Linked DNA regions of Homo sapiens. The protein of the gene in region 4 purifies or fractionates together with the protein of the main gene of each other region. This does not show direct contact. Each region holds a gene or a part of one and is shown on either strand. Other genes may lie near its edges.

Region 1 (3,500 bases), on a different chromosome or scaffold from region 4:
CGGAACACCTGTTTGAGACCATCTTGTCCAACATGGCAAAACCCCGTCTCTACTAAAAACACAATAATTAGCCGGGCATGGTGGTGCATGCCTGTAATCCCAGCTACTCAAAAGGCTGAGCCACAAGAATCGCTTGAACCCAGGAGGCGGAGGTTGCAGTGAGCCAAGATCCTACTGCTGTCCATTCCAGCCTGGGTGACAGAACAAGACCTTGTCCGCCCACCTTCCACTCCCCCACCAAAATAAAACAAAAAATAAAAACACACTTAGCTGGGCATGGTGGTGTGAACCTGTAGTCCCAGCTACTTGGGAGGCTGAAGTGGGAGGCTTTCCTGAGCACAGGAGGCCGAGGCTGCAGTGAGCCACTGTACTCCAGCCTGAGTGACAGTGAGACGTTGTCTCAAAAAAAAAAGTTACCTACGTTTTACTCCTTTCTCTAAGTTTAAATCCCCCAAGAGATTAAAATAATTTCAATGACAATCTGAGAATTTCTGAGGTTAAGGAGAGGCTGCCCTTTGAAAAGGTGGAGGTGAGAGATTTTATAACTGAGATAATTTGTAAATAAGGGTATAACTGATCTTACAGGAGATGTGAATATAAGGCTATCTGTGTAGTTTATATGGGTCAATATTTTGTATTTAATTTCTCTATACACTACTAGAGATAACATATATTTGTTTTAATCCAGAAGAAGCAAATATTCTGAAGTCTTTTTTCTTTCCATTTTTTACCAGTAGACTATTAAACGAAGATAAAGTCATTATTAGAGCTATATTGTCATCATATTTTCAGAACAGTTGTTTCCTCAGTTATTCATTTAGTCTGGGTTGGACTTCCCAAGGGGGAAACCAATATCCCAAGAGTCTGGCACAGTTAAGTAGTTCCAGATGGCTTGCAGTAATAATGAGGGTGGACACTTTAAAAATGGCTTGGAAAAGAAAATCGCTGGTTATAGACACTAATAATTCAGTTACATTGAATTGTGTGAATCATTAATGACTTTGGATTAGGTCAGAAAATCATTAAACTTTATCTAATTTACAAATATATAAATGGAAAAATATATGGATTCATGTTATATAATACCAATTTTTAAGTTGCACATTTTTTTCTCATTCAAAAATAATAAACGTTCACATTTATTAAATAAAGAAGTGGAGAACATTCACATAAGCAAAAAGAGGAAAAATACCATTCATTGTTAATCATGCTTTCCAGGTTTTTCTCCTGCTTCTCAGGCTATCCCACTTCTTCTCTGTGAGCTTTTAATATTCTGCCTACCCCTTTAATATTGGTGTTCTGTCCTTGACCTTCTTTTGTCTGGTTGACTTATTTGTCCCTAGTCAATATCAATCTGTCACATGACTTCAGTTATTGTAGTTATGCTAAAGGCTCCCAACTCTATCTCCATCCTTTCTTTGACTGCTAGAACAGCTTTACCTAGATGTCAAAATTTCCTCAGATTAAACTGTCTAAAACAGAATTCAGTCCTCCAACCCTCTTTACGGCCCCCAAAACAAACAAAACCAAAACCTGATACTCTTTCTGGTGGGTCCATCCCTGACTTCTCCTTTCCCTGACTTCTCCTTTCACCTCTCACATTCAGTCACATCTTGTTAATTCTACCTCGTAAATACCTCTTAAATATGTCTTTCTTCATTCCCACTGTCATTGTCATCTCTTGCCAGTCTTACCCTTCTGCAATATATTTTCCCCAGTGTAGCCAAAATGTTTAATTGTCACACTGCTTAAACATTTTTACCCTTTACCCAGAGTTAGCCAAACTCTAAGGTTAAGGGCACAGTCTTCTACTCTGCCAAGTCTGCTCAAGACTTCTGATCCTATTGTAAGGGGTTAGGGTGCAACTACAAATTTCAAATGAAGATGCTATGCAAAACCTCACTTCTAACATCAACTGCAAGTTTGGGGGTTTCCCCAAACCACCCTCAGATTCAGTAATGCACTAGAAAAACTCATAGAACTCACTGAAAGCTATTATACTTAGAGATACAGTTCATTACAAAGACAAGCTACAAATTAGTCAAAGGAAGAGAGATGCCTAGGGTATAGTCTAAGAGGGTTGCAGATATGAAACTTCCATTGTTCTCAGGGAATATACCTTCCATACCCTCCCAGCATGAATGTGTGGATGTATGGAAATACACACAAGGTATTGCCCACCCAAGAAGTTCACCTAAACTTTAGTGTGTCTGGAGTTTGTGTTTTGTTTTTTAAAGAGATGGGGTCTCACTATATTCCCTACGCTGGATTCAAACTCCTGGCTCAAATGATCTTCTTACCTCAGCAGAGTTTTCATTGAGATTTATTGATTGTTTGCATGGTTGAACTCAGTTTCCAGTCTCCCCTCTCCAGAGGTTAGGCTGATACTATGTGGTTCAAGGGACCCATCATGAATAGTAAGAATACTCATATTACTCCAGAAATTCCAGGGGCTTAGAGGTTACCTCCCAGGAGCTGGGGGCAACATCTGGACCTCTCTTTGGACAAGTTTTTTACTCCACATCCTTCATCACCTATCTCTCTTTTGCCCTCTAGATAAAATCCAAAGGTAAGGGCTTATAATCTTACTTCATTAGTTTTATTTCTGGAATCACTATCCACCCACTTCATCCCAGCTCTACCCCTCCAGAAACTACACTTCAGCTATATTAAACTAATGTATTTCTTTGAAGGTATTGTGTTATCTTTTGCCTCTGCACCTTTGCACATAGTATATTTTTCCCTCTGCTTGGAATACTATGTTCCCCCAATAGCCACTCCCAACACAATCCAATTTCTTACCCGTTTTTTAGTTCTCTGTTTAACACCTCTTCCTTGAGGAAGCCTTTGCTTACCGTCCTCACACTCATCATGAGTTAGGGGTCCCTTCTACGTTCCTTTCCATAATACCCAATGCCATTCCTCTTGTAAGTACTTGGTTTAATTTATTATTTTTTGTCAGCAAATATTTATATCTCCGTCACTAGACCAGAGGTCTCCAAAGTCAATTGCACCTAAAATACTTCATTTCGGCAAAGGAAGAAAACATTATCATCTGTTTATTTGTGTATAACATACGAAATTAAGTGCTATAAATATTTGACATGTTTATTGAGATTGGCAACTTGTTCTGTATGACGACTGATTTCATGTGAAGCATGGTAAGTGTGGTATTCTGAGGGAGTGCAAATTCCACAGCTTATGGGGGTTGACCGTGGCATCCTTTCTCCAATTTTTAGGCCATTACAAACTATTACAGTTTATCTGTGCCTGAGTAAATAGATTTATGGATTATATTTCCTGGTTTTAACAAAATTAGCCCTCATGAAATGGAAAATTGGCTTTAAAAGTTCCTGTGAAGATGGCTGGGCTTGGTGGCTCATTCCTGTAATCCCAACACTTTGGGAGGCTGAGGCAGGCAGATTGCTTGAGTCTTGGAGTTCGAGACCAGACTGGGCAACATGGCAAGGCCCCGTCTCTACAAAACTTAGTTCAGCTAC
Region 2 (3,500 bases), on a different chromosome or scaffold from region 4:
GTAGAGAATAATTCTTGCCAAATGAGAAAACAAGCATGGAACTACCAGCATGCCCCCCAAAAAGGTACAAAACAGAGCTTTATTGAATTGTATTCTACTACCTTACAAGAGAGCCAAACTGAATGCTCGTTTTCAATGAAGTCAAGTCTATTTTTAAAAATTATTTGCTGCTTTTTTAGTTTTTAAATGTAAAAAGCCCTCTGACTTTCATGGAAAATGTTCATGAAGAAAAACAATGTCAGAAATATTATGCTTAAAATAAGAGTAACAAACAGGAGTGAAAGACTACCAGGGCAACAGAATAGACTAACCAAAATAATCTGATAAATAAACAAATTTTTTTTTAGAAAGAAGAAAAAAAAATCATGGAATGAACTATGTTTAAAATGTGTCCCAATTATTATAAAGTTTTTCATATTATTTGGAAAATTTATGGAGACAACCCAAAGTCAAAAATTACTAAGAACTAATATACTTTTTCTTTTATGGCATATTTTCTTACCTCAGGCAAAAAGAGGACATTTGAATTAAGATTATTTTATAGATAAAATGAGTCCATAAACAGTACTCTAAAAATAATTTTTATCAGAATTAGAATGAAAAATCTACTTGCTAATACAAATTGTTGTTAGGTGGAATGGATCAGTGTAGAGTTTCTTAAAGTCTGTACATGGAATAATCTCAGTACTATGAAATATGTATTGAAAAGAAAGATTTACGAATGTGAAAGAGTAGTGGTCAGTTCCACCCCAATATAAACATGGCTCTACTTACCTAAGTTATTTCTATATCGTAACTGATTGCGGATACTGTACAGGACAACCTGCTTTTCATATTCTCTCTGTGAATTTCCAAGACTCTAGGAGAAATTTCAAAAAGATTTTAAACAACTTCCAAACTGAACAATAGTACTATTTTTTCCCATAACACACTTTAAAACCACGACCCCCATTTTTATCCTGGCATCTCTAATTTGCAGAATTAAATAAAAAATATTTTCTTAAATGTTATTATACTAACTTTCCTGCTACAGTATTCAGAGCAAAAATTCTATGTATTTTCAGTCTGCCTTTCTAAAAGAGTTTACTAAAATTATCCGAAGTATTTAATATCAAATAAAAACCGGTAGGTGAGTGTAACTTCACTTTGGTTAACAAAGAACTAAGTTCTGCTTATAAAGATTTCCTTCCTGACTGCTATATTAAGTGGTTGGATAGATGGTTTCCTGCCCCTACATTTATTTAAATTTAAGAATGGCAACTAAGGACAGATACATCCCTCTTTGATAATTGTAGCTGAGGGTTATAATTATTAAAGATTAGGATTTCTGGAAAATTTACATTTAAATGTACGTAAGATTGTTTCTTAAAAATGCAATCTCCTGTGGCCTCATTAGAAGGCATTTAGACAATTTTAGAATTCGGAGCCATTTTTAATAAGCTAAAGTCTTTCTAGTATGCACTTAGTGTTTTGTTGCAGTGTTCCTGAAAGCAAACAACGTTTGCCTGATTATAGTTAACATTATATTCACTGGGAGACCATAAACTTAATTTAATATATGACTGCTATCCTCCTCCTAATTTCTAGGTATGGTCTTTCCAACACACTATAAAGTGAAATTAGACATCTTAGGAAAGTAATGACAGAAAGATCAGAGGATTTAGTTCATCGTATTTCTTACTCATAGGTAAGCCAAAACCAAAGACAGGTCCCTACATCTTTCACTTAAGGCAATCTTCACAATAAGACAGATGAAACTCACATCTAAGTAAACTGACCCATAACTGGACCCATTGGTAGGTAATATTTTAAGAAAAATAGAACATGATGTGTCCCATTTTAACTGTACAATTATGTGCGGTTGGCCCTTGGACAACACGGGTTTGAACTGCATAGGTCCACTTACACTGGGATTTTCTTCCTCCTCTGCCACCCTGAACAGCAAGACCAACACTTCCTGTATTTCCTCCTCCTCCTCCTCCTCAGCCTACTTGATGTGAAGAGAAGGATGAAGACCTCTGTGATGAGCCATCTCCACTTAATGACTAGAAAATATTATGATTTTCATAATAGCATTTTCTTTTCTCTAGCTTATTGTAGTACAGCATATATTAACAATATATATAACATACAAAATATGTGTTCATCAACTGTGTTATGGCCGAGGCTTCCAGTCAACAGTTATAGGCTATTAGTAGTTAACTTCCGGGGAAGTCAACAGTTATAGGCTATTAGTAGTTAACTTCTGGGGAAGTCAAAAGTTATACATGGATTTTCAACTGCACAGGGGTGCAGCACCCCTAAACCCATGTTGTTCAAGGGTGAGCTTTCTTCCTGCATTTAGCTTAGTTTATCACAGGCTAAGCCAGAACCCACGGTAGAACCAGAATGTATGTGCTTATCTTACTTTCATCTGTCTTAACATTATAAGGGGTTAAGAGTAGATCTCATTGTAGAGAAACTACTCTACCATCCTCTTCGTAGCATCAATGCCAGGGTCGTTGTACTGACAATATTTAGAGGATTCAAAATAGCACACTTTTAAAGGTTTTCTCTGTCTCTACTGCTAAATAAAAGTCTCTTTCTCAGGGAACACAAATACACACACATGCATACTCAAACAAGCACACAATTTTGCTAAAATCTAGCTTGAGGTTTTGCTCTTCTGTTTCAAAATAAGTCTCTTAATACACTACCTATGAAATTTGTAAGCTTTGGCTCTCAGCATTAAGTAATAACTGGTCCTGAACCTATCAATCAATACACGAGTGAACACAAATTTCTAAAACCCACATTAAAAGTTGGCTTTATTCTTCACTGGCCAAGTATGTAATATAAATTGCTTCATTCTGAGATTCTTGGGCTCCCTGGGCTCCCCTCCTACTCCTACCCCACATCTCCCACCATTCAAATTTTAAAACACTGTTGCCACTAGAGAAGGTGACTTTTTAAAAAGAAGAAAAAAAAAGTAATTTTACCCCGAGTCAACTCTAGCCCTGCAGAAATACTGACCAGGTCTGACAAATGAAGTTGGGCTGCATATAAAAGGAACTACATCAGATCAAATGGCGATGTAAGAATAAGACACTAGCTATAAAGCACCCATCACAGATTATGCTAAAAACACAAAGATTTTCTGAAATCTTTGCTCCTACAGACTCCAATCCCAGCATATACATCCCCAAGTACACCCCTGTGCCGCATCAAAAAATTTTTTAAATTGACCCTTCTTGGATGATACAGAAACTTATCATAAGATTTCCCTCAAAATAAAAGGGCTATTAATTATTTTGGATAAAGAATACAAGATAGTGGTAAACTACAGAAAAATCCTGAAATAATGGCCCCATCCACAATTTTTTATATATTTTTTAAAAGTCTATCATGACCCATACCACATTTTTTTAAATGTCCTCTCATCCACATAAAAATGAATTAGCTTAAAATACATTTTTTAAAAATCTAAATCACCTGCCCCTAGCTTACAGAACTGGAAAATG
Region 3 (3,500 bases), on a different chromosome or scaffold from region 4:
GAAAAATGTATGTGTATTTATATGACTGTCCTCTTTGTTGACTTATCCTTTTTCACCTCACAAGAACTAGTAGGGCCAGACTTTCTTGTCCTGCCATTTCTTTCTAAAAGAACTTCATATTGTGATAAGTAGTGGTATTGACTTTCAGAAGAAAAGCTTATATAAATGAATTTACCCATTCCTACCCAGTCCATAGCTTTTGGTTTAACTCTGGATCAGTGGGTGGCTCATATTTTGCAGAGTAAGGGTGCAGTAGGGAAATAATACCTCATTCCTTTATGAAAGGGTTAGAAATCTTTCTATGAACCTGACAGAGTTAAATGATATTTCCTTAAAAGCTGAATGGGCTGCCTGAGAGGCCAGTTAGGAAAGGCAATATATTTCTGGAGCCTTCAGTAATATATTCTCCCCTACCCCCATCAAGGTCTAGTTTGCTGACTTTTTTTTTCTTTTTTTTTTTTCAGAGACATTGTCTTGCTCTGTCACCAAGGCTGGAATGCAGTGGCCATCACAGCTCACTGTAACCTCAAACTCCAGGACTCAAGCAATCCTCCTACCTCAGCCTCCTGAGTAGTTGGGACTATAGGTGCATGCCACCACACGTGGCACTTTTTTTTTTTTTTTTTTTTGAGACAGAATCTTGCTCTGTCATCCAGCCTGGAGTGCAGTGGCACGATTTCAGCTCACTGCAACCTCCACTTCCTGGGTTCAAGCGATTCTCTTGCCTCAGCCTCCCGAGTAGCTGGGATTACAGGCATGCGCCACCACACCCGCCTAATTTTTGTATTTTTAGTAGAGATGAAATTTCGCCATGTTGGCCAGGCTGGTCTCGAACTCCTGAGCTCAGGCAATCCGCCCACCTTAGCCCAAAGTGCTGGGATTATAGGCATGAGCCACTACACCTGGCCACACGTGGCTAATTTTTAAAAGTGTTTTGTAGAGGTAGGGCCTCATTATGCTGCCCAGGCTCATCCTGAACTTCTAGCCTCAAATGATCCTCCCATCTCAGCCTCCCAGAAGTGCTGGGATTACAGGCAGGAGCCACCATACCTGGCTGTAGTTCACTGACTCTTGAGGAAAGCCTGCACCTTGCACACAGTGGATACTTGGTAAATATGCGTTAAATGAATGGTTAAGTACAAGCAGGGCAGGTGAGACCTTGTGCCAATATTTATTACCCGTTAGGAAGAGTTGATTAGGAGTCCCCCAGTTTCAAAGGCAGGATTAAGAGTGAGAGAAAGTGAGTTCGTGAAAGAGGAGACCAAAGTGGAGTGACCTACAGAGGAAATAAGTGAGAGAGATTTGGAAAAAATATCACATGACATGACCACATTTTGGAATAGCTCAGATCAAACTGTAGTAAGGAAGAAAAAAAAATTATGACTGGAACAAAAATGGGGGCTCTTGTTTTCACTGAAGAGTCTTTTACAATGCTAATGAATTTTCACTGAAATAGTTGCTGATGATTAAGTGAAAATACTGGGAAAGTAGCATGTGATTGGGTCAATTAACTTTAGGATGGATGGAGGCAAACTGTGTCATCTGTTATTAAGATAGAACTACGGAAGTAATTGCTGCCCCCCAGACTCTCACGATGACCTCAAAGTTAGAAGTCAATATGAATTAGGTGGGTGGTCAGAATCTTGCCCCATATTTAGTGAGCTAGTTGGGAAAACAGGAACAGAGAGTACTCCTTTTGGCCAGAAGGTGGAGCATGGTGAGTGAGAAACACCATGTAACCTTGAAAAGCAATCGTAATTTATCTGGCCACAAACGGTATTTCAAATGCATCGCAAAGCAAGAAAGAAGTTCTTTCTTGTTAAGCAAATATAAATAGCCTGGCTTATATTTTGCTTGTTTATTTCTACATTCGGAAATCAGGTAATTTTCCCCTCTTTCTTTATAACAACATTGTTTTTTCATTAAGACCAAGGACAGGAACCCAGCATTTTTGAGTGGCTGCAAAATAAATAAGCTCCTACTGAATCCAAGGGGGGAAAAAACTAAAGTGGAAACTCATAGAAGAAAAGCAATTTTGCTTGTAATTTTCTAAAGGGTGAAAACATAAATAATAATAGAGAGAAAAGAGAAGTCAGCATTTTCAAGTTAATATAAGGAAGTTGTGAATTACGTTTCAATGTCAAAAGAAGTATAAGTAATACATTCATAAAGAAGTGAAAGAAAAGATATTCATCTATTTCAAAATAAGCATAAATCATAAAATCAGATTGCAAGTTAACCTGTGATTTTTTTTTCTTTTACCTCACAATATAAAGGGTCGTAGACTTTACTCCAAATTCCAAAAAGGTCCTGGCCATGTAATCCTGAAAGTTTTCCCAAGGTAGCTATAAAATCCTGAAACACAAACAGAGAAAGAAAAATTCCTACACAGGTTTCTCAGCTTCAGCATTATTGATATTTTGGGCCAGACAATTGTTTGTTGTAGGGAGCTCTCCTGTGCATTATAGGATGTTTCACAGTATCCTGGCCTCTGCCCACTAGATGCCAGTAGCATTCCTAATCTCCCACTTGTATAACCCAGAATATCTCCCGACATTGCCAAATGTTCCTTGTGAGGCAAATGCGCCCCTGTTGAGAACCGCTGTTCTTCACAGAAAAATGCACCAGTAATATTGGTTACGATAATGTCATTCCAAAGAATTTTACAAACACGAATTGATTATTCCTTATTATTACATTTAAAATGTAGATAGATGCTGGCTGACTGCCACATGTTCCTGGTTCGTGCTGGAATTGGATTGAAGTGTACTGCCTCAGATTCTTTTTAGAAGTGGGTAAAGTATAACTCATGTGTAAATATGTCCCAGGTGAGAAAGGAAAGCATATTTCAGGCCAAAGCATCCTGGAACATGCAACACAAATAGGGCTTGGTCTTTGGCTATACATATAAAACTTGGATGGAATGCAAATCTTTCGCTAGGTTCTGTATGTTTCTTGGAATGTCGCAATAATGAGACCCAATGTTCAGCTATCTGACTGCTGAAATTGGCAGCCATTTCTGGGAAGCCTTTTTGGAAGATATTGTCTGTCTGATGGATGAAATTTCTAGGGAACTACAATTTGCCAATATTAACCTCAATAGATTTTCATAAAATAATAGAAATTATTGTTAAAGAGCTCCTACTGCCATCTTCTCAAACATAAAAGCTCCAGGGCCAGATGACTGTCATAGAGGAATTCTACCAAGCTTTTCAAGAGTAAATTATTCTAATGCTATTTTAACTGTTCTGGAGCATAGAAGATGAAAGAAAACTTTCAAAAACTTCTTATGAATTAAGTGTAACACTGATACTGACAAAGATTGCCCCCAAAATAAAACTATTAGTTCAATGCCACTTGTAAATATCAATGCAAAAGGTGTAAGTAAAATAACAGGAAGTAATTCAATGTCACATAAAAGGAAATGGGTTTGATTTGAGAAATATAAAGATTGTTCAACATTGGTAAATCTATGAATGTAATCAATCATTGTAATTAAT
Region 4 (3,500 bases):
TGTCTTTTGTTTTCTGTTTTGTTTTCGAGATGGGGTCTCTCTCTGTAGCCCAGGCTGGAGTAGACTGGTGCAATCATAGCTTCCAGCCTTGACCTCCTAGGCTCAAGCAATCTTCCCAATGAGGTATTATATATTACAAAATAGTTAGAAGTTTTCGAATGAAGAAATGATAAACACATGAGGTGACGGAAATAACTACCCAGATTAGACTATACAACATACACATGTATTGAAACATCAAACTGTACCCCATAAATAGATCCAATCATAATGTATCAATTAAAAAATTTTAATCCGTAACCCCAAATAATGCAAATTAAAACACATAAACCAAAAATAAGACATGAACATTTTAAAATTTGATATTGTCAAATTTCTCCTAGAAAGGCTATGCCAATTTACGTATCTACTAACACGAAATGCAAAGACCCTTTCTTCACATCCTTGCCAACATTTTCCTACCCAGTGGTATGTACTGCTGTTCTTTTTTCTTTGCTTGCCCGCCCCCCGGTTTTTTTTTTGAGACAGAACCTCACTCAGTTGCCCAACCCAGGGTATAATGGCATGATCACAGCTCGCTGCAGCCTGGGGCTTAAGCGATTCTCCCTCCTTAGCCACCTGAGTAGCTAAGACACAGGTGCACGCCACCACGCCCAGCTAATTTTTCATTTTTTTTGTAGAGACAGGGTTTCACTATGTTGCCCAGGCTGGTCTCAAGCTCCTGGCCTCAAGTGATCCTTTAGCTTTGACCTCCCAAAGCGCTGCCACCACACCTGGCCGCACTGCTATTTTCATATTCAAATTCCTAACTCCTAGCAAGACTAAGCATCCTTTCATGCTTCATTGGTCTTTCGTTATTCTTCAGTGAATTGCCAACTTTGCCCATTTTTCAGCTGGGTTTTTATTTGTAGGAGTACTTTATTATAGATATTAACCTTTTGTCACTTAGGTATATTACAGATTATTTCACTCAGTTTATTGTCTTTAGCTTTGATACTATTCTGAATTAAGAAATCAATTTGGAGAGATGTCATCTTGCTTCCTCACCAGCCTTCCTGGGTGCTCTCCAGGACCGTAGTATGAACATACATGCAGGTCATCTTCTATGTCCATCAGCAAAGTTTAATATTTATTTTTTATTTTTATTTTTTTGAGACAAGAGTTTCATTCTTGTCGCCCAGGCTGGAGTGCAGTGGTGCGATCTCGGCTCACTGCAACCTCTGCCTCCTGGGTTCAAGCAATTCTCCTGCCTCAGCCTCCCTAGTGGCTGGGACTACAGGTGCCTGCCACCACGCCCGGGTAACTTTTTTGTAATTTTAGTAGAGATGGGTTTCACCATATTGGCCAAGCTGGTCTTGAACTCCTGACTCAGGTGATCCACCTACCTCGGCCTCCCAAAGTGCTGGAATTACAGGTGTAAGCCACCGTGCTCGGCCATCTTTTGTACATTTTCCTATCATTTCAACTACATTGCAGCTTTCTTGAGAATAGAAACTTTTCTCTCTTTTGTTTGTCTTTTGTTTTTGAGACAGTCTCACTCTGTCACCCAAGCTGAAGTGCAATGGTGTGATCACGGCTCGCTGCAACCTCGACTTCCTGGGCTCCAGTAATCCTCCCCACTCAGCCTTCTGAGTAGCTGGGACCACAGCGCACCACCACGGCTGGCTAACTTTTGTATTTTTGGTAGAGACAGGGTTTCACCATGCTGCCCAAGCTGGTTTTGAACTCCTGTGCTCAAGTGATCCACCCACCTTGGCCTCCTAAAGTGCTGGAATTACAGGCATGAGCCACTAAGACCGGCCAAGAACAAAAACTTTTTTTTTGTTTGTTTGTTTGATTTTTTGAGACGGAGTCTCCCTCTGTCACCCAGGTTGGAGTGCAGTGCACAGTCTCGGCTCGCTGCAAGCTCCACCTCTCGGGTTCATGCCATTCTCCTGCCTCAGCCTCCCAAGTAGCTGGGACTACAGCCGCCCGCCACCATGCCCGGCTAATTTTTTTGTATTTTTAATAGAGATGGGGTTTCACCGTGTTAGCCAGGATGGTCTGGATCTCCTGCCCTCAAGATCCGCCCGCCTTGGCCTCCCAAAGTCCTAGGATTACAGGCGTGAGCCACCACGCCCAGCCAAGAACAAAAACTTTTAATAGCTACAAGCTGCTGCTCTGAATTGTGTGCCAGTGCCTTGCACATAGTGGGTGGTCAATAAATGAGAGTAATGATTACTCAGAGACTGGCACTCAAAAGAGCACAGGCCAAACAGCTACAGAGGGAGCTGCATATGTGAAGCAAAAGCTTCTTGGAGTACTCCACATCTTACCCACTATATTACTCCAAAAATATCAACTGTCCCATATCTGAAATGTATGGACACCATAAGATCCAGTATGGGGTTTGGTAGGATGAAAAGTTTACAACCTACATAACAGCTAACAACAATCTAAGCAACAGGGGAAGGAGGGAAGGAGACAGACTAGAGGGGGAAGGCCCGGGGTCGTGGATCTCAGAAAGACTCCTCTAGCTACAGTAGATACACACTACTGATAACTAGCTACAGTAATACACACTACTAATAGACACAGCACTACAGTAGATACAGCACTAATAACCATTGGCCTACAGGAAAATTTGAATAGGAAGCCCTTCATCTAAAACCACCGCTTGTTCTTCCGAGGTTATGTAGGTCAGTGTTTAGGACAAAAATAAAGTGACAACTTGAGCATACCGTGGATCGAGCTGCAATGATAATTCAGAATAGGAGAAACTCACATTCCATGTTGACACCCTTCTGTAATGACAACAGCAGATACAGCCACAAGAGAATGCAGCCTCAAACATGATCAACTCACTGCCCCCACTTTAAAACGGTCCTTAAAGGCAGCTGTTCTGGAATCTGCCTATGAGGAACACAGAATCTCCAGCTTCCACACGAGTCAGCCTCATCCCTGATCCTTATGGGGTAAAAAGCACCATGGTTCCGAGACTAAAACAGCATTTTCAAAATCAGTGCTAAAATCCTAAAAATGAACCTTGGTATGAGTATTTTCAAAATGAGAAACACAATCTGGATGCACGTTTCTCCTATTCCAGTCATTTGAGAAACTCATATCAAATTCTTACTCTTTCAAAAGACTCTAAACAACTTTTATAATTTAGTATGGAAAAATAAAGCAGCTTGTCAAAGTTAGCATTTAATTCTGAATAAATGATCTGGGTGATTTACTTAAAATCAGGAAAACACACAAACCAGGACAGAAATCATCCTAAGTCTGAGAACAAGAACAATTTAATAATGTCCCGGGAATACTTGGCAAACACACACACACGAAGTTAACTCATCTATTTCACTTCCTTCGTTAGCATTTTAGCTGAAGTATTTCATATTTTCCTTATATGCTCCTGAATCTCTCAAATGAAAACAGTGAATAGTAAAAAACAAACGGCCAGGCGCAGTGGCTTACGCCTGTAATCCCAGCACTTTGTGAGGCCGAAGCGGGCGGATCAT
Region 5 (3,932 bases), on a different chromosome or scaffold from region 4:
GTGGATCAAGAGGTCAGGAGATCGAGACCATCCTGACTAACACGGTGAAACCCCGCCTCTATTAAAAATACAAAAAATTAGCCGGGAGCCGTGGCAGGCGCCTGTAGTCCCAGCTACTCGGGAGGCTGAGGCAGGAGAATGGCGTGAACCCGGGAAGTGGAGCTTGCAGTGAGCCGAGATCACGCCACTGCACTCTAGCCTGGGTGACAGAGCGAAACTCTGTCTCAAAAAAAAAAAAAAAAAGAAACTTGCCCAAGGTCGCCCATCCAGGAAGCAGCTGAGGCAGGGCTGAAACCCAGGTCTGGCTCTAAAATCCATTAAAAAAAAAAAGTTGGTGTTTCTCAAAGGGCACCAAAATGCTTTGGGGGTGCTTATTAAAAAATCCAGAGGGCCGGGTGCTGTGGCTCATGCCTGTAATCCCAGCACTTTGGGAGGCCGAGGTAGGTGGATCACCTGAGGTCTGGAGTTCAAGACCAGCCTGACCAACATGGAAAAACCCCGTCTCTACTAAAAATACAAAATTAGCCGGAAGTGGTGGCACACGCCTATAATCCCAGCTACTCGGGAGGCTGAGGCAGGAGAATTGCTTGAACCTGGGAGGCGAAGGTTGCGGTGAGCCGAGATCGCACCATTGCATTCCAGCCTGGGCAACAAGAGTGAAACTCCGTCTCAAAAAAAAAAAAAAAAATCCAGAGGCCAGGCTGCACCCCTAACCTGCTGGATCAGAGTGGACAACAGACCTGGGAATCCGCATTTTCACCAGCTTCCCCAGCAGAGTAAGAAAGCTCCCCATTATAGTCTCTGAAAATGCAGAAAATGGAGGTGAGGAAGCAAGAAGCGTCCGAGATCAATATCATATATCTCTGCACCCCCTCAACAGCACCTGCCCCCAACAGTTCCTGGTGCCTAGCCAGGTACCTGTGGGGACTTGCTTCCCAAGAAATTAACTTCCTGGGTGCCGGGGTCGGGACAACAGGTTCGTATACAAATACTGGGTCCCTTCCAGCCAATCCTGAGCTCTCAGCTCTGGGAAGGGGCTGGGCTTTCATGACTGGAGCCAATGAATTGGCACCCTGGGCTGGAGGGGTGGGGCCAGGGGCTTTTAAACCTCATCCTAAGGGGCCTCAGGGGCAGTGTTGGGGTTGGCGGCCACAGCTAAGTCCAACACCAGCATGTCGCTGCAGAGAATCGTGCGTGTGTCCCTGGAGCATCCCACCAGCGCGGTGTGTGTGGCTGGCGTGGAGACCCTCGTGGACATTTATGGGTAAGAGTCAGAGGCCTAGTGGTTTGCAGGCCCTTGGTGCTGATGCCCTTGGACCTTCCTCCCTGCAGGCTGGGCAGGGCTTCTTCAGGGCCCACTCCCCAGCCTTGGCCTCGGAACAGCAGCCAATCAGGGAAGCTTGGGTCCTCCTCTTGCTCTACTGAGTTTCCTGAAGACCTTAGCCAGGGAATTTGAAGTTTGGGAGGCTGAGCCAGGTAGAAGAGGCTTCAGTGACTGAGCTCCAGACCGGGGGCTTGGAGGGGGCTGGTGCCGCGAAGAGATGGCACTTTTCTATGTCCAAGGGATGCTGCAGGTTGGGCTGAGGATCTGTCTGGGGCACACAAGAATAGGAACAGGCAGATATCCCCAGCCCCATCCTGAGCCTATGAGCCTAGAAACAGAGCATGAATCATTTTTAAAAAATAAGTTAATACATAGCACTTACCATGTGCCAGGCACTATTCTAAGAGCTTCACAAGTCTCTTGAGTTAAGTTTTGAACTTTAATCTTGAATTTAACCCTTACAACAACCCTGTGAGCTAGGCTTATTATTAGCATCATCTCATCAGACAAATGAGAAAACCGAGGCAGAGAGGGCAAGCCATTTGCTCAAGTCACACAGTTACTAAGTGGCAAAGCCAGGGTTTAAACCCGCTTGTGGTCTTACTCAGGAGTCTTATGGTTTTAGCTGCTCTGATACTTGGAAAATAAAGATTTCCAACCTGGTTTCCTCTAGACACTCAATGCCCATGCATTATGCTCCTACTGTGTGCCAGGTCATGCCTTTGAGGCCCATGGTAGAGGGAGGTAAGGCCTTATCTTCTCTCTCTTAGGAAGAAAAGAGGGTTAGGGTAGGGTTTTAAGAGCTGGGCTCTGGGGACCACCAGGGAGCTGGCTTCTTAGGCTTTTGGGGAGAATCCAGGGTCCTGGCTTGGAGGTAATCAGGATACTGGGAGGGGAGGGTGCAGAACTGTGGGACAGCTCTCACCTCTCAAGTCTCCCAGCCCTCTCCTCAGGCCAGGTTTCTCAACCTCAGCACTGCTGTCACGATACCTCTTTGTCATGGGGGCCACCCTGTGCACTGTAGGATGGAGAGCAGCATTCTGGGCCTCTCTTTGCTAGATACCAGCAGCACACTCCCGAGTTGTGACAACCAAAAATGTCCCCAGACATTGCCAAATGTGCCCTGGGGTGGGAAGAAAATAGCCCACCCATTGAGAACGAGTCTCCAAGACTAAGACTCGAAAAATCAGGGCGAACTTAGTCGGGAGCAGCGATGGGGTTGATCCAGGGCATTGGATGAGAGGGGGTGAGGAGCTGGTCATGGGAGGGAACCAAGTCGGGAGCAGAGCCAGCCCAGGAAATAAATCCTGGTATTGGTGGGTGGGCAGTAGGAGGAGGAAGGGGATTCAGTGGTTCTTGAAGGAAGGGGCAGCCACGGAGGCTGTGCCAAGGAGGTAATGAGGAAGGAGGGGTATCTGCCACTTGGCACCACTGCCTGCCTGCCATGGGGTGACTGGGCTGCGTGCCATGGGGTGACTCACCTGCCCCTGCTGCCTCGTGCCCGTTGGGCAGATGTGTCTCCGGTTTGACCTGTCCCAGGAAGCCTGGGCCTGGCTCCTCCCCCGCAGAGCTTCCTTAGAGGATAGAGGATGGATTGGGGCAATAAGAGATAAAGGCCATAGCTTCCTGGAGTCACCTGAGCCACACTGGAGGTTTGCAGAGAAGGCCATCGGTGGGACAGCCACAGGGTGGGGGATGGAAGCTCTGATACCTTCAAATGAGGGATTCTTGGGCCCTGGTGGCCAAACCCCCCAGGGGTGGGAGTGGAGAGCTCCTAGTTCGTTCATTCACATATTCTTCAAGTATTTCTTTTGGGTCTAGTGTGTGTACCATTCAGAGCCTTGAAGGATGAGCACAGGCTCTGGGGACACATACAGGGGAGAACAAGCAGCTCCTCCTCTCTGAGAAGCCAGCAGAGGCTGGACAACCTTCTTACAAGGGTGCCACAGAAAGGACTCCTTTCTGGGAAGGGGAGCAGGACTGAGTTAGTTCTGAGGTCCCTCCCGGCTTGGAGGTGCCATGATGTAACAATCCTGGGTCCTCAGCCTGCGGGCCAACAAGAGAAAGGGCAGTAGGTGTTGTGGCTCAGTCCTGGCTCTGCAACTTCCCAGCTCTCTGACCGTGGGAAACTCCTTTAACTTCTCTGAGTCTCTGTTTCCTCACCTGTTGCCTGGGGATGATAATAATATCAGCAATGGCACTGAATGCCACTCCCCAGCAGTGCCTGTAAGCGCTTTCCATATGTTAACTAATTCTCACAAAATTCTCAAGTGGGCACTGTCATCATCGTCATTTTATAGATAAGAAAACAAAGGCACAGAGAGGTTAAACAACTTGTCCAAGGTCACATGGCCAGTGAGTGGCAGAGCCAGGATGTAACCCAGTTTGGCCTTACTTCAAAGGGCAGTTAGGGGCATTGAATGAGATTGTGTGTGCAAAGCATGTAACTAATACTGATTTGTGGTGAACATTCAGTTATGTTAACTGTCACCATTATCATCATCATCAGTTTAAGGCTTTGTCCTGGGCCTGTGGACAGCCTCAAGCATCCCCAAACCTGCCATATGCAGGATGTCTGGGGAACAGTCTCTGGACCGTATTGGGAGAA
Region 6 (3,500 bases), on a different chromosome or scaffold from region 4:
AAATCATCACCAAGGATTCACCGAGGGTGCGTGAGCGGGTGCGTGAGGGGAACGAGGAGGCTCAAACACTGACTGGGGGTTGGGAGTTTGGAGGGAGGGGGAATGGGTGGGGGCCCCAGCCACCCCTCCCCCTTCTAATGCCACGGGAAAGGGGTCCTCCTCTGGCCAGCTCCCCTCCCCAGGCCCCATGTCCAGTTTCTCTCCGGGGAGGTGGGGTGGGAAAGGAAGAGGGTGTAGTGTGAGTGGGCCCCAGGAAGGGGAAGGGCACTGGGGGTGGGGATCCCCCATTTCACATGCACTCACAACACTGATCTCCCAGGGAGCCGGAATGGGGCAGCCGGATGGAGCCAGGCCCCCTTCCGCCCTGGATTATAGGAGGAAGGGATTAGTGTTGGGGGCCGGGGGGCCCGGGGGCATCATGGGGGGCAGGCCAGGGCCCCCGCCAAGGGGAGAGATGTACGTGGGTGGCGCTCCAGGGACGGGAGGCACAGGACTGAGACGGAGCTGGTTCAGGGTGAGCGTCGCGGGAGGCGCGGGCTGGAAGGGGTTGGTGACGGAAGGGCCAGTGGCTGGGCCTCCTGCAGGAAGAGTAAACCAGAGACACGGAGTGGAGTCAGTGGCGCAGCCCACCTGTGTCCATCCAGCATGTGCAGGCAAAGGGCGAAGTGTCCCTGCCCCGTGAGGCACCTCCTCTGGTGGAACCCACAGGAAGGACTTGAGCAGGTGATGGGCCCACACTCACCGCCTGGCAGGAAGGGGTTGGAGGCCTTGGCTCCAGGCGGCGTGGGGCCCGGCCGGCTCACCAGCGAGTCCAGGTCGACGAGGGCTGCATTGGGCCCCAGGAATGACTCCGGCGTCTTCCGGGTGGGGGGCGTGGGAGTTGGTGTGGCTGCAGGTGGGGGGCTGCCCACAGCCTCAGCCAGAGATCCCCTGACCCCACTCATGTCAAACGCCCCAGGGCTTCGGGCCGGCACCTCTCCTGCCAGCAGCTCCAGCTCTCCTGGAAGGATCCGGGAGAGGGGCTCAGACAGGGCAGACAGCAGTGAGGCTCCAACCCGGGAGCAGTATAGGCCATCATAGGGGGCGCTTCAAAGAGCCCGGTGCCCAGAGGCCTCGGGAAGGAGGAACTGAGGTGCAGAGCGGAAGCATCGCTTGCCCAGGCCAAAACCTCACGTCAGCCCAGATTCCCATAAGGTGGGTCTGATTCCAGTGAGCAAACACAAGAGGGATGACAGAAGCAGGTGTCACCCTCTGACAACCAGAGGGCAGCAACTGCTTCAGGGTGGGGCCGTCCAGGGTCTATAGGCCCGCGGGGGAAGGCAGCGGGGGCGTGTTCACAGGTGCCTCCAGGCTCAGAGGAGCCTGCCCTCAGACGCTCCTTGAGTACACAGCCCCAGAGGGAGCTTCCAAGTGGACAGACAGCACAGACACGTGTTCCGGGCCAGCGTGAAGACATCTGTTGGCTAGAGGTCTGATTTTCTGTTTTTTTTTTTTTTTTTTTTTTTTCTGAGACGGAGTGTCGCTCGTTTCCCCAGTTGGAGCGCAATGGCGCAACCTCAGCTCACTGCAACCTCCACCTCCTGGGTTCAAGCGATTCTCCTGCCTCAGCCTCCCAAGTAGCTGGGATTACAGGCGTGCGCCACCATGCCTGGGTAATAATTTTGTGTTTTTAGTAGAGACGGAGTTTTGGCCATGGTGGTCAGGCTGGTCTTGAACTCCCGACCTCAGGTGATCCACCCACCTCGAGCTTCCAAAGTGCTGGGATTACAGGCGTGAGCCATTGCGCCTGGCCTGATTTTCCTTTTAAATAGATTTAAGAATTCTACCTAATGTTGAAAAAATGCACACATTTGTATGGGACAAAAAAGGGCCTAAAAGAAGGAAAACTGCATGCTGGAAGGTTGCTCTACGTTAACCTAGATAATGAGAGGAGGGAAGCGTGGGTGCAGCTCACTCCCTGCAAGCTGCCAGCCTTTCATCAGTGGAAACAGGTTTCTGTACCACAACCTGCTCTTCACTAACAGCTCACTTAAAATAAAAATAAGAGATCAAGGCTGACCTGACTCATCATGGGACAGACAGGTATCAGCTGAGGGCCGCGGCGAAGCACCAGTGGCCCACTATGACCTCGGGCACTCCTGACGAAGAGCCACTCAGGACTCAGCAGATGGGCCCGTCACCGGCGATGGGCGCCAGCTTACGCCAGCTGAAAACCCCAAGGAGCCAGGGCAGCTAAAGGCAGCACCCATGAGGACGCACCCTGGCCAGCCCAGGAGCCACCAGCAGGTGAGTGGCGACCCGGAAGGGGAGCCTCGGCTGCCTTCCAAACCCCTGTCCACGCAGCTCACTGCACAGGACAAGACAGTCCGTGTTCTTTGAGACACCTGGAGAGTTTGCAAGGCACTCAAGCAACGTGGAGGCAGAGACGGGTCAGAGGTCAACATTCGGGTGGGAAACCTTGAGAACAATTCTCAGTTTTTCTCTAAGTCTGCAATTTCTCTAAAATAAAGATGCACACTTCTTTTAAAGACAGGTGGATGGTTCTGGCCCACTCTACCCAACTGAACTTTTCATCCCTAAGTCCAGCCGGCCCTGCCTGGAGTGGGACAAAGACAGCAAGGGACGGGGCTCCCGAAGAGCTAGGGGAGGCTCCCTCTCGCCACTGGGCAGGGGAGGGCAGGGGCTCACCTGCGCTGCTCCCGGAGGTCGGCAGTGCCGTGCGGAGTCGGTCAAAGTCAGAGAACTCGTCGGGCTCCGTGTCGAATCCCCCGGCTGCTGTGGGGTCAGGATGTTCTGCTCAGCCCCTCCCTGGGGCCCCGCCTCAGCCCCCACCTCCAGTCCAGGCGTCCACCCCTCCCTTAGGACACTCAACACTAACTTCTCCCACTCACTCCCACCCGGGGCTCCATTCCCACCCCCATTCCAGTACCTGTTGTGCCATTGGTGCTGGGCTTGGCAGGTGACCCTCCCCAGGGATCTGAGAAGGCCGGGGCCGGTGTCCAGGGATCGGAGGCTGAGGGCCCACTGACCGGGACCCCACCTGGGTGAGGACAGAAGAGCATGAGGGGCTGGCAACCTTGACTGCCCAGATGGCTAGGGAGGACCATTGCCTCCAAATCTGTGGCTGTTCACACAAAAGCCCCCCTGCCCCCCAGAAACCCACCCCACCCGGCCTCCCGCACACACACTCAAATTCCAACTGGGCTTCTCTGCCAGGCTCTGCCCCTGGGACCCCAGCTGGGGTGAGGGGCTTCCCCGCAGCCTCTGCCAGACCTGCCCAGCCCTCCCTCAGCTCCCACGGCTCGGCCACCCCTCCCCTGTCCAGCTGGGTGTCAGGCCCCTTCTCCACCTGCACCTCCCAGCTCCACCCACCGCCCTCCCCAGATGCCTACGTCACACACGCTCTGCCTTGGCCAGAGCCTCTCTGCCCCTCGGCTGAGCTGCCATCCCCTCCCCACAGCACACCCCCCATGTCCTCCAAGGCACAATCTCACACACCC
Region 7 (3,500 bases), on a different chromosome or scaffold from region 4:
AAGTTGCTTCTTTCTCAGGCTCTTCAAGTTGTGAGATGGTGACCACTCCTGTAAAGCAAATGCAGACAAACCTAGAAGTGCTAGGTTTCCTTCTGTCAAAGAATCGTCCAGAAGAGCTGGGCACACACACCACTGCCCAGTATCATTTATTATTACTACACATGAATCCACATTTGTTCTTTAGATTTTACCTACTTAGAGAAAGGCTAAATGAATGCATTTTAATTGGAGCTTTTATGGCAAACTTCCAAAAGGTCTGACCTTTTGATGTTTTTATAAAATACTTACAAAATGAAAATAATGAATTCAATGATAGTATTGCCTATTCCTCGTCTCCTCCCCCATCTCTTATGTGCACACGATAAGACAATCACAGTTCTCGAACCAGGGTCCTTTATCATCCATAGATTCCTCCAAAATCACTTGTTTTATTTATATATTCTTTTATATTCCACCTATTGTAAAGCCTTTTAGTCCAATATCCTCGCATATGTATAAGTTCTTAACATGTAGTTATTATCTAATTTACCTAAATAGTATTGTGTTTATATGTGTGTGTGTGTGTGTGTGTGTGTATATATATATATATACTTCATCCTGTTTCTTACTCTTTCCACTGTATTTAAGTCCTCTTCCTCCTGTTTCTGCATGCTACGTAATACTCCATGGGTGCATCAGCCAATTGTTAATCTGTCTCCTCTCTCAGTAAAAACACACAGATGGTCTCCAAACTCACATCATGACAAAACACACCAGTCAATATCCTTGCAAAAGTTCATTTACGACCAAGAGCTCAGCGGACACAGAAGATGTCTGTGTTTGCCCAAGTGCTGCCAGCGTGCTTTACAGAATGGCTGCATTGGTCTACATTCCTACCAGCAATGCACAAGGATTCCCATACCCTATGTTCCACCCGTACTTAACACTATATGGCTGTCCAGTTTTTGTTAGTCTAAACGGTAGATCCATATCATGGTTTGAACATCTCTGAAAACTGATGAGTTTGAACATTCCTTTATATGGCTTGTTGGCCTTTTAGGTTTCTCTGCCTCTCATTAGCTCTTCACAGACTTTGTTCATTTTCTCACTAGGGTTCCCGCTTTTTTTCACTGTTGACTTGCAGGAGTTTCTAGTTAAATTTAGACACTGGAAAATTTGTTTTCCCAAAATGTCTTCTGTATTTAACTTTGACATCTTCATCAAACAAAAAGCATTAATCTTGATTAATTAAATGCATTGTTTCTTTTTTTTTTTTGCCTTTTGGTTTGAGCTTCTGATGTCTCCTCCTGCCTCTAGGTCACAGCAATATTTTGTATTTTGTTATATTCAATTTTATAGCTTTACATTTTTACATTTAGGTCTTTAGTCCTGTGACACTCACTTCTCTATACGGTATTAAGTAGAGATCAAGTATTTTTCTCCATAAAGTGAGACAGTTTTCCCAACACCGTCTACTACACAGTCTGTCCATCCTCTTTGATTTGTGCTACTTTACTGTATATTAAGTCCCCAAATATTCATGGGTCTGTTCCTGAGCTCTTTATTAGGTTGACTCACTTTCTATTCTTGTGCCAATACAATACTGATTTTATTTCCATGGTTTTGTAAGATGTACTAATATCAGGTAGGAAGGGCCAACCCCACCCACACCTCCCACATTTACTCCTCTTTATTCAAGGATGACTTAGCTATTTAGGACCTTTATTCTTTCATAAACATTTTTGAATATGTTTACCATATTCCTCAAAATATCCAAATGAAACTTGAATTGGAATTGCACTAATATGATATTAGGTTGATTTATCCAAGAAAATAAGAATTATCTCCATTTATTTAGATCATCTTCTCTGAACACACATTTTTAACCAAAAAAATGACATTGGCAGTAATGATTTTGATTCAAGCTTAAGCAAAACATTCACCACATACATATATACCTAAATAAGCTATTAAATTCTTAAATTGTAACTTACCAAAGCAGTTATTGTAGGGAAGTTTTTGGACATCTCTCTAAGAAGGGTACAAGTCCTAACATCCCATAGCTCCAGGGGTTTATCTCTGAATACGACTGCCAAATACTGCCTAAAATAAACAAAATTACTAAATAAGCCCCTTTTTGCAAAAATTTCACCATGAATTAGAGCAAATAAAAAGTTCAGTAAATTGAAAAACTCAGCTGACGCATTCTAAATATAGACAATTTAAACTACCATTTAGCACCATGATTAACAGTCATAAGAAGGTAAAGCTCTAAGTGACCTGTAAGAGAACATACAGTCTCACACAATTAGGCAAGGAGTCCAACTTGGAAGAAAGAGTGGCATAGATTCAAACCCTGATGCCACAACTTATGTTAACCCTCCTGAGGCTCAACTTCTCACACATGACAGGAGAATCTCATCATGTACCTCAATTAATTGATATACAGATTATGGTAAACATTCAATGAAAAAGTATGTAAAGTTTCTATCATTCTACTACAGTTGGTATTCAACAAATGCCACTTTATTCACTTTCTGTTAAGCCTGAAAGAAGTACTGAATGACATCAACGAGTGCAATTCAACAAATATAATTTGAGCACTGATTACTCAATAAGCATTATGAGGAACTAAAATATTATCAGCAAATGATGGCTGACATAGAGGAAATGTGACAGAGTAGGAAGATCCCTGTACTCCCTGTATCAAAGGACTGAGATTCTTCCACTCAGGACCATGTGTGACCCCAACAGAAAGTAGAAATTTACAGAAAGATACCTGGCAAAACACCCAAATAGTTTGAAGTTAAAAAATATACCTCTGAATAACACCCCATGGAAATTTTTAAAGATTATAATGTGAATTAAAATGAAAACATATAACCATAACAAAAATTGTAGGATACAGGAAAACTGGTGCTCATATAGCATTAACTGTTTACATTACATTTTAGAGAATCAACTTAATTCAATTATCTAAGTTTCTATTTTAGAAAACTATGTAAAAAAAGGAGAGCATATTTAAAAAGTAAGCAGAAGAACAAAAGATAAGCATGACAGACAATGAAATTGAAAATGGAAAAATCATAGAGAAGAATCAAATGAATCAAAAGTAGTTTCTTGGAAAAGATCAATAAATAAAATTGGTTGATATAATTTACTGATATTAGGAGTGGGAAAGATAATCACTGATCATAGATCCATGATGAACAAGCTTATTTCAATAAATTAATAAACTCAGCAACTTCAACAAAATGGACAGATTACTTGGAAGACACCAATTACCAAAGCTCAAAAAAAGAGAATCTAAATAGTCCTATATTTATGAAAAAAAAAAACAAAACTGAATTTGTATTTAAAAACTTTGCCACAAAGAAAATTTTAGGTTCAGATGGGTTTCCTAATAAATTTTTCCCATTTAGTAAGAATAATATCAATTCTACACAAACTCATTCAAAAAAAAAGGAGAGAGAATACTTTACAACACGTTCTGCAAGGTCAGTATTACCCTGATACCAAAA

The links.
Region 1: the proteins of KDELR2 (region 4) and PPM1E purify together in Homo sapiens (affinity purification with mass spectrometry; one large-scale study listed by BioGRID and IntAct). This does not show direct contact.
Region 2: the proteins of KDELR2 (region 4) and FAM91A1 purify together in Homo sapiens (affinity purification with mass spectrometry; one large-scale study listed by BioGRID and IntAct). This does not show direct contact.
Region 3: the proteins of KDELR2 (region 4) and ACP3 purify together in Homo sapiens (affinity purification with mass spectrometry; one large-scale study listed by BioGRID and IntAct). This does not show direct contact.
Region 5: the proteins of KDELR2 (region 4) and PADI3 purify together in Homo sapiens (affinity purification with mass spectrometry; one large-scale study listed by BioGRID and IntAct). This does not show direct contact.
Region 6: the proteins of KDELR2 (region 4) and EPN1 purify together in Homo sapiens (affinity purification with mass spectrometry; one large-scale study listed by BioGRID and IntAct). This does not show direct contact.
Region 7: the proteins of KDELR2 (region 4) and WDR11 purify together in Homo sapiens (affinity purification with mass spectrometry; one large-scale study listed by BioGRID and IntAct). This does not show direct contact.

Annotation. Positions count from the first base shown.
Region 1 is NC_000017.11:58,758,854-58,762,353, forward strand, and holds part of PPM1E (protein phosphatase 1E), read left to right. Parts: intron 1-3,500. UniProt on the Homo sapiens protein: Protein phosphatase that inactivates multifunctional CaM kinases such as CAMK4 and CAMK2. Dephosphorylates and inactivates PAK. May play a role in the inhibition of actin fiber stress breakdown and in morphological changes driven by TNK2/CDC42.
Region 2 is NC_000008.11:123,771,439-123,774,938, reverse strand, and holds part of FAM91A1 (protein FAM91A1), read right to left. Parts: intron 2,046-3,500; exon of another isoform or gene 1,907-2,045; intron 860-1,906; coding exon 775-859; intron 1-774. UniProt on the Homo sapiens protein: As component of the WDR11 complex acts together with TBC1D23 to facilitate the golgin-mediated capture of vesicles generated using AP-1.
Region 3 is NC_000003.12:132,341,407-132,344,906, reverse strand, and holds part of ACP3 (prostatic acid phosphatase isoform PAP precursor), read right to left. Parts: intron 2,356-3,500; coding exon 2,263-2,355; intron 1-2,262. UniProt on the Homo sapiens protein: A non-specific tyrosine phosphatase that dephosphorylates a diverse number of substrates under acidic conditions (pH 4-6) including alkyl, aryl, and acyl orthophosphate monoesters and phosphorylated proteins.
Region 4 is NC_000007.14:6,477,653-6,481,152, forward strand, and holds part of KDELR2 (ER lumen protein-retaining receptor 2), read right to left. Parts: intron 1-3,500. UniProt on the Homo sapiens protein: Membrane receptor that binds the K-D-E-L sequence motif in the C-terminal part of endoplasmic reticulum resident proteins and maintains their localization in that compartment by participating to their vesicle-mediated recycling back from the Golgi.
Region 5 is NC_000001.11:17,247,966-17,251,897, forward strand, and holds the start of PADI3 (protein-arginine deiminase type-3), read left to right. Parts: upstream 1-1,132; 5' UTR 1,133-1,172; coding exon 1,173-1,264; intron 1,265-3,932. UniProt on the Homo sapiens protein: Catalyzes the deimination of arginine residues of proteins.
Region 6 is NC_000019.10:55,692,226-55,695,725, reverse strand, and holds part of EPN1 (epsin-1), read right to left. Parts: intron 3,041-3,500; coding exon 2,930-3,040; intron 2,776-2,929; coding exon 2,689-2,775; intron 1,001-2,688; coding exon 743-1,000; intron 579-742; coding exon 370-578; 3' UTR 1-369. UniProt on the Homo sapiens protein: Binds to membranes enriched in phosphatidylinositol 4,5-bisphosphate (PtdIns(4,5)P2). Modifies membrane curvature and facilitates the formation of clathrin-coated invaginations. Regulates receptor-mediated endocytosis.
Region 7 is NC_000010.11:120,882,362-120,885,861, reverse strand, and holds part of WDR11 (WD repeat-containing protein 11), read right to left. Parts: intron 2,083-3,500; coding exon 1,974-2,082; intron 49-1,973; coding exon 1-48. UniProt on the Homo sapiens protein: Involved in the Hedgehog (Hh) signaling pathway, is essential for normal ciliogenesis.